Linked DNA regions of Homo sapiens: region 1 is linked to region 2. The links come from fine-mapping of genetic effects on gene expression. A gene starts in region 2. The other region holds a variant in brackets. All regions are shown on one strand. Distances are between the middles of the regions. Region 1 overlaps ANGPT4 (angiopoietin 4). Region 2 holds the start of ANGPT4 (angiopoietin 4).

What was found. PIP is the estimated chance that this variant, and not a neighbour inherited with it, causes the effect.
Region 1: its variant is the best candidate, but not a certain one, in a credible set for the expression of ANGPT4 in subcutaneous fat (GTEx, PIP 0.59).

Annotation. Positions count from the first base shown.
Region 1 is chr20:893,633-898,018 of GRCh38, forward strand. The region is part of intron 1 of ANGPT4 (angiopoietin 4); the gene reads right to left. Among named protein-coding and RNA genes, the nearest start is that of ANGPT4, 21 kb to the right of the region's middle. The variant G/A (reference allele first, on the strand shown) is at 1,968.
Region 2 is chr20:913,544-917,929 of GRCh38, forward strand. It overlaps ANGPT4 (angiopoietin 4), which reads right to left and starts at 2,791. Exons shown (of 9, transcript NM_015985.4): 1 at 2,363-2,791. The coding sequence starts at 2,671. LOC105372492 (a long non-coding RNA gene) reads left to right here. Exons shown (of 3, transcript XR_937185.3): 1 at 1-137; 2 at 3,783-3,878.

The DNA.
Region 1 (4,386 bases), 20 kb before region 2:
CATCTCTGCATGGTTTCCAATGAGCATCTCAAGCCCAGTGTGAAACTCTTCATTCCTCAGCTCCCATCGCCCCTGTCCCTGTAACTCCCACCCCATGCTTCGAAATCTTTCCCATCTCAGGAAATGGCTCCACCCAGTTCTGAAGCCCCAAACCCAGACCTCAATCTTAACTTCTCTTTTTCTTAGCGGCCACACTCAACCCACTAGTAAGTACTGCCCACTGTGATCCCAATTTGGATTTCAAATCTGTTTACTCGCCTTATTCTGGGCCAGGCTGCCCTCCTCTCCATGGGTCTGCCTTTTGTGCCTTCCTGTCTTTAACCCCTCTGTCAGCTCCCAGGAGATTCTTTTTTTTTTTTGCAGTTGCAAGATTTAATAGCATGAAATAGAGTGAAAACAGAGCTCCCATACAAAGGGAGGGGACCCAAAGGGGGTTGCTGTTGCTGGCTCGAATGCCTGGGTTTATATGCCAATCCTTGTCTCTCCCACTGTGCTCTCAGGCAATAGATGATTGGCTATTTCTTTACCTCCCATTTTTGCCTAATTAGCATTTTAGTGAGCTCTCTGATTGGTTGGGTGTGAGCTAAGTTGCAAGCCCCGTGTTTAAAGGTGGATGCGGTCACCTTCCCAGCTAGGCTTAGGGATTCTAAGTTGGCCTAGGAAATCCAGCTAGCCCTGTCTCTCAGTCCCCCTCTCAACAGGAAAACCCAAGTGCTGTTGGGGAGGTCAGCTGATGACCGCACTAACTGCTTCCTGCTGAATTAGGGAGTAGTAGGGGTGGTGCAGTTGAGATTTCCTCGGGAGGGGTGCCTTCGATGTCATTAACATCAGAGCATGGGCTAGCAGGCTGGTCCGGGGGTCCGTGGTAAATCTTAGTCATGGACTGCATGTGAGCTCCCAGGAGATTCTAATGTGTGGCTGGCTGGGCCCACCAGCATGGATGAGGACAAATATAGCTGTATCGAGTTTGGTCTCAGACTTTTTCATGCATCATTGACCTCCTAGAACCTAAATTAAAAAGCAGACATCCAGGTACTGAGCACCTGCTCCAAGTAGTCAAACAGCATATTCATGCCTGAGGTGAGACTTTCCCAGGCATCTTCCCCAAGCTTCTCATTTGCCTGAACATAGACAAACTGAGGCCCAGAAGTCTTGCCCAAGGTCACCATCTGGCAGGCTAGGCTCTAAGACTCCTTGCCTGAGGGCTGCAGAGCTGAGCTGGTGATTCAGGGCAGCTCAGGGTCCCCTCAAGTGACTGGAGCTCCCCAAGCACCTCACTGGTCCCCCACTTGTCCTGTGGTTGCAAGTGGCTGGGCAGGGCAAAGGTTACCCACAGCTGGATCCCATCACCCAGTTTGCCACACCCGCCCACCAGCACAGGCCCTGGGATGGATAATCTGGGCCAGATGGGCTCAGTTAGGCTGGGCTGGGCTCTGGAGACTAATATTGGCCTGGGTGGTGGGAGCTAGGTCTGGCCCATGGCTGAGGCACCAGCTGGAAGGGCAGGGAATGGATCCCAGTGGAGGAACTCACCCAGCGTGGGATCTACTTCTCTTGTTTTTTTGGATCTACTTCTCTCTATGCCGTGCACCGACTCCAGGATTAGACCTGCCCCTTCTCCATCACTCTCAGGCTGCCGAATTCTCAGGCCTATGATGGGGTACAAAGGCCTGACCTTTTGTCACCCTTCCAGCTGGCAAAGAGACTGAGTTTTGGTCCCTGGTCTACTGCCCCATCCCCTTGGCCCTGGGTTTGAGTTCTGGCTCTGCCACACTTTCATTGTGGGCCCTTGGAGACTACTGTGTTTCTCTGAGCCCCACTTTACAGATCTGGGTCATGGGTCAGCACACCCTGCTCCTTGCTGGGGAGAGGGCATTTGCAAAGGGTCTTGAAGGAAAAGAAAGAAATTTTCACAGGCAGGGGCTGGGGGAGAGGGGGTGATTCAGACAAATAACAGGTGCAGATCC[G/A]TGGATGAGCAGCCTCCGTGGCCGAGGAGATCTGCTCAAGCCTGCTTCTCTCCTGCATTATTTATATAAAATGGACATCAATTGGTGAATGGAGAAACTGCAGTCCATCCATGCAGTGGACTCCATTGAGCAATAAAAAGGAAAGAACCATTGATGTGTGCAAACACACAGATGAACCTCAGATGGATCATGAGTGAAAAATATGCAACTCCAATGGTTCCATACTGTAGGAGTCTATTTGTATGACTCTCTAAAAATGTCAGAATCTGTGATTGCCAGGGCCTGGGTCCGGGGAGGGGGTGGGGATTGATTGTTAAAGGACACAGGGGAGCTTTTTGGGATATTGGCAATGTTCTATGTCATGATTTTGCTGGTGGTTACATAACTGTATATGTCTGTCAAAACTCATGGAACTATATGTGAAAAGGGTAGATTTTGCTGTACGTGGGTCATACCTCAGTAAAAAACAACGCCCCCAACACAAGGTTCTATAAAATGCCGCAGATATACATATGTAACATTAAATAGATCTCCTCCAGTGAACCCCCTCACCCTCTCTGAGTTTCATTCATGTGTTCATTCAGGAATTATTTCTTGAGCACCTACTATGTGCTCATCCTGTATTAGGTATTAGATAATCAGAAATGAGCAAAATTCGTAAAGTTTCTGATTCCAGGGCACTTCTACTAAATATATCAGTTGCATTGAAATCTTGATGAATGCTATGAAGAAAATAAGACAGGGTAATATGTGGGGTTGGAGGCAAGTTTAGCCAGTATGATGGAGAAAGCCCCACCAGAGAGGGCCATCTGGGCTGAGAGGCTGAGAAGAAGCAAGGTCTGGGAGAGTCAGGAGGGAGGGAATTCCAGGCAGAGGAAAAGGCAAGTGCAGAGGCCTTGAAGTGGGAGCGTGTCTGGTATTTGAGGATCAAAATGAAGATGGTAACAATGATATGCCCTGCAGCTATCTCTCTTCCATGGAAAATGGTGCATGAGGTTCCTGTTTGGGAAATGCATCTTGTCAACTGCAGATAAAAATCAATGCAGAGAGAGTAGTGCTTTGTATGGATGAAGCTGTGTGTGAATCACAGCTCTTAGCTTACTGGCTGTGTGACCTTAGGCTGGGGCCTCTACTGGTGTCTGAGCCTTTTCTCTAAAATGAAGATAATCATAGCTCCTTCCCCTGGGTTGTAGGGAGCATTCCTGAGATAACTCTGGTTGTAGTTACATAATGAACGCATGATAAATTCTGGTATGTCTGGGCCATATCTTACTATGTGTCAGGACTCTGAGCCCAAGCCTGCGCGTATACATCCAGATGGCCTGATGCAACTGGAGAACCACAAAAGAAGTGAAAATGGCTGGTTCCTGCCTTAACGGATGACATTACCTTGTGACATTCCTTCTCCTGGACAATAAGTCTCCGTAGCTCCCCACCAAGCACCTTGTGACCCCTGCCCCTGCCCGCCAGAGAACAACCCCCTTTAACTGTAATTTTCCACTACCTACCCAAATCCTATAAAACTGCCCACCCCATCTCCTTTTTCAGACTCAGTCCACCTGCACCCAGGTGATTAAAAAGCTTTATTGCTCACACAAAGCCTGTTTGGTTCACATGGACGTGCATGATATTTGGTGCTGAAGACCCGGGACAGGAGGACTCCTTCAGGAGACCGGTCCCCTGTCCTTGCCCTCATTCCATGAGGAGATCCACCTATGACCTCCGATCCTCAGATCAAACAGCCCAAGGAACATCTCACCAATTTCAAATTGAGTAAACGGTCTTTTCACTCTCTTCTTCAGCCTCTCTCACTACCCTTCAATCTCCCTGTCCTTCCAATTCGGGTTCCTTTTTCTCTCTAGTAGAGACAAAGGAGACACATTTTATCCATGGACCCAAAACTGCAGCACCGGTCATGGACTCAGGAAGACAGTCTTCCCTTGGTGTTTAATCACTGCAGGGATGCCTGCCCTGATCATTCACCCACATTCCATTGGTGTCTGATCACCGGGGGGACACCTGCCTTGGTCATTCACCCACATTCCCTTGGTGGCATGTCAATTGCAGGGACACCTGCTTTGGCTGCTCACCCATATTACAGCCCAGGGCTGCTCACCGCCCGCTTCTCCGTGTCTCTAGCTTTCTCTTTAAACTTACCTCTTCACTGTGGTCAACCTTCCACCCTGCATTCCCCCTTCTTCTCCCTTAGCCTGTGTTCTCAAGAACTTAAAACCTCTTCAACTCACACCTGAACTAAAACCTAAATGCCTTATTTTCTTCTGCAATACTGCTAGGCCCCAGTACAAACTCGACAATTGTTCTAAATGGCCAGAAAACAGCACTTTTGATTTCTCCATCTTACAAGACCTGGATGATTTTTTGTCAAAAAATGGGCAAATGGTCTGAGGTGCCTGATGTC
Region 2 (4,386 bases):
ACATTCCACCCCAAGCTGAGGCACTGGACCAGGTGACCTTCTGATCCTGCAAGCCATCAGTTCAAGCCATCAGCTCTCAGCCAATGTTTCCCAAGCATCCGACACCCAGGGGATTCAAAGATGGATGAGAGTGAGAGGTGAGACTTGGGGTAGGAGGCCCAGTGGGAGGTGATGACAGCATCCTGGGAAAGATGACGAGGCCTAAGCCAGAAAGATGGACCATGAGAGAAGCCTAGGCCACAGGATGGGCTGGGCCAGCTGCCTGGGGGATAGGTGGGAGCCACAGGAAGCCCCCAGGGCACAGCCTGTGGCTGGGTGGTGGTGTCACCCTAAACAGAGACAGACAGGCAGGAGGAGGGTGTTTGGAGAAGAGCAGGGAGTCGTCTCAGGCAGCTTTGGAGTTGAGACACCCATGGACCCTCAGGGAGGTGTTGGGGGAGATCCAGGTCATGGGTTTTGGGCTCAGGATCCCATCAATGCCAATTTTGTGTCATCACGGAGCAGGATGGAGACCTGGGACCTGAGAGATTGGAAGGACATTTATGCATTCATGCATTCACTCATGCTACAGACATTTATTGAGTACCTACTGTGTGTTCGGCACTATTCTAGGCCCTGGGAACCCAGAAGTGAGCAAAAGAGACATGGCGCCTGCCCTCTGGGAGCTCACACACCAAAAGAAATGTTTTTAAGAACATTAGGTAGGGATAAGTTCTAAGAAAAAAAAACACAACAAAGCCAGCAGAGGGACAAAGGGTGGAAGAGGAAGGTGGTTATTTCGTACGGGGAGGACAAGGAGGGCCTCTGGGGAGATGGCGCTGGAGAGGATAGGAGGCTGGGGTAAGCAAAGTGGGAGTCTGGGAGAGGGAACTCCAGGGAGTAAGGGTTCTTGCTTTTATTCGGATGCATGGTTAGCCCTGGGAGGAGGGAGAGGATGTAACTTAGGTTTTGATGGGGATTCTTTGGTCTGCTGCATGGAGAACAGGAGGTGGGGGCCGAGTGTTAGCAGGGAGCCAGGGGGGCAGCCAGGACAGCTATCCTGCCTGGAGCCAGAGGTGGTTGTCAAGCTTGTCTGCTGTTTAATACCTTCTAAAACTCCAGGAATTAGTTCGCATCCTTCATTCCTCAGTCATCGCCCAGACTGTCTCCTGGGTCCCTCTCCCTTTCCTTGGTAGCTCTCACTTAGGGACTCTGAAGAGTCCCATCTCAGACCCCCCAGGATGTCTCCTGTACCCTCATGCCCCGCCAGGGCCAAGCCTGCTTTGCACACCTCTGTAGTCAGTGCTTCTCCGAGGGTACACAATAGGTGCTCACACTGCTGAAAGACGAAAGCATGACAGGGCATTCTACAGCAGCCCTGGTCTTGGGCCAAAACCACAGTGGCATCCTCAGCTCCTTGCTTCCTCCCACTCCGCATCCAATTCACCAGCAGAGCTGATGGGCTCTACCTCCAGAACCCACCAGAATCTTACTGGCCACACCCCCTCCTAGCCCCGTTCTGCTCCAGGCCTCCGGTACCTTGCACCTGATGGCTGCAGCGGCCACCTCTTTGGGCTTCTTCCTTCCACCCTGCCTCCTACAGTCTATGCTGTTGAAATCGAATCACGGGTGTCTGTCTCTGCTCACAACCTTGCAGTGGCTCCCATGACACTCAGAACAAAAGCTGAAGTCCTTCCAGTGGCCCCCCCCCCAGCTGCATGGCCTGCCCTGCTGTCACCTCTCAGACCTCCCCGCACCCTTGCTCCCTCTCCTCTGCTCCAGCTACACAGGCCTTCGCCCCATGGTTCTCCAGGCACACACCGCTGCGGATGCATTCCCTCCTCACGGTCAAAATACATGCAGCTCCCTTTGCAGAACGTTCCCTCAAATACCTGCCTGGCCCACTCTATCATTTCCCTTGTTCTCTGGGTTCAAATGTCACCTCCTCTGAGAAGTACTCTCTAATGATCTGACCTCAAGCAGCCACCCAGGGCCGCCACTTGCCCTCTTTCTTCTTCATTTTGCTTCACCATCTGACATAGTAGATTATCTCTTACTGCCTCTTTCCCCTACTAGTCCAGAGGGAGACATACTATACTGTCGTATCCCCAGCACCCAGGAAGGCTTGGTCCGTTCAGCCCTTGGTCAGGGCTGAATGGATTTCTGTTGGATGAATGAAGGGACGGCAGTTAAAGAGCCAGGTTGCCAGCTGACATTGCCCAATCTTGCTGTGTGGCCTCAGACCCACCCCTGCCCCTCTTTGTGCAGCTCAGAGACAGCCCTCTGTGCTCAGGGAAGGCCTCTTGGATGGACACTCCACCTGCTGATTGTGACAGACCCCAAAGCCGCCCTCTGCCCCCTGCAAACCTCCCATGCCCCGTACCTTCTTCAGCCACTGCGTGTTGTTCTGCAGTGCCTGCTCCAGCTGTTTCACCTGCTGGGTGGGCAACTTCCCCAGGTGCAGTGGGTTGGCCAGTGATTCTCTCTGGAGGGTGTTGGAGTCCCTGGAGACCTCAGGCCCCGGAGGGCAGGGCTCAGACTTGGGCAGCAAGAAGGTGTAGCTACAGTGGCCGTGCTGGACTACAAGTGTCTCGCAGCCCCTATCCGCCTCCTGCCTTGTCTGTTGAGCCACAGACATGGTGGCAACCACAAGGAGGAGGCTGCCCTGCAGCATGGCTAGCTGGGAGAGCATCTGAAGATGTGTCAATGGCGAGGGATGTCTGCTCAGAGCCCTAGGGGCTGTGCCTGGGATGTCCTGCTGCAGCCAACAGTGGCCAGGCTTGCCTGCAGCTGCAGCTACAAACCTCTGTCTGGCCGAGCTCTGTCCAGGCAGCTATTTATACTTGCTCTGAATACCACGGCTGCTCTGCTTGCTTCCTCTCACCGCCTCCCTCCGGCCCCACCCGACACCCTCTCACCTCTATTCTTCACTCCTTCCCTTCCTCCTTCCTCAGTCTTGGTGGCACGTCGCCCTTACCCTAAGCGTGCACCAACCTTGCTCTGTCTGCCTCACCTCTGAGCCCTCTGATTATCCAGTGAGGCCTGGCTTCCCTGCTGGAGGGGAGGGAAGAAAACAGCACACAGACACGCGCACACACTCATGCACACACTCACGAGCACACACTCACACGCACGCTGACACGCACACACATTCATGTACACACAAACGCCAAGCTCCAATGCTGCCCGCTTTGGAAAACCAAATGCAACTTAACTCTCCCTTCCTGTCTCTGTCTTGGTCTCCCTCTTTCCCTCCACCCCCATCCCCTGCCCCCCAAGTCTAAGATCTCAAGTTTCAGTCCCGCTGCCATCCCCTTCTCTCCCCGCTGCACCTTCCTCCCTCTGGTTCCATGTTAGCGCTTGGAGTACAAGTGACCCCCGGAGAGAGCAGAGGGAGGGGAGGAGGCAGAGGGGTGAGGCTGGGGAGGGCCCAGCGAATCCACTTTGCCTCTGGAGACACAGAAAATCCTTCCAAGGTGGGGCAAGTGAGCAACCCAGCTGGGAGTTGCTTCCTGTCCTCTCTTCTCCCTCAGGGCCAGGGGAAAGTGGTATGCCCCAGGATGGCCCTGGCTTGGTTGCTTGTAACAGTAATGAGAAGTTGTCATGTCCTGGGGCAGATTGTCCTGGGGCTGCTGGAGTGGGGATGTGGAGAGGAGGCAGTGGGGAGAGGAGGTTGGAGTGCCAGGAGGCTAACCCTAGATCTCGCTCCCCGACAGCTGGCCACGAGACCTAGGGTGGGCAGCTGTGCCTCTCTGGGCCTCCACACCCTGATCTGTAAACTGGGTAAACCTTATCTCTTGCAGGAGGAATGCGTGTGAGTCCTCAGCATGGGGATGGAGAAGTTTTCAGCTTCTGGGTTCAAATCCTGGCTCTACCATCTACCAGCTGTATGACTTTGAGTAAGTCACTTAACCTCTCTGTGCCTTCATTTCCTCCTGAATGAGGAAAATAATACCACCTACTTCACATGGCATGAAAATTAGGTGAGTTAGAGCAAGGTTGGCACAGAGCGAGCACTAAATAAATATTTTCCGTTGTCAATGTTATAGTTGTCATTGCACCTCCCCTCCCACGACCCACTGGAGCATAAACTCCTCTAGGGCAGGGATTTGTCCCTGGGGGACATGGTCTCCAGGCAGAAGGTGCCCAGGAGTTGGTGGGGCCTTTCCTGCATGGGCTGCCTTTATGTTCTGCCAGCTGTTTGGGCTTTTCCTCTCTCCCTGCTTGTTTCCTCAGAGTAGGGGCCAGTCTGGCTGTTTAGTATTTTCCTTTTTGTTCTCTCAAATCCCGATAGAGTTTTGAATTGGGGCAGGCTGCTTCTGGGCAGCTGTGAACTGTGGTCTCATCTGGGGACTGAGAACATTATACCAGGTGTGGGGCTTTTGCAGGCAAAGGAAAAGCAGCTGG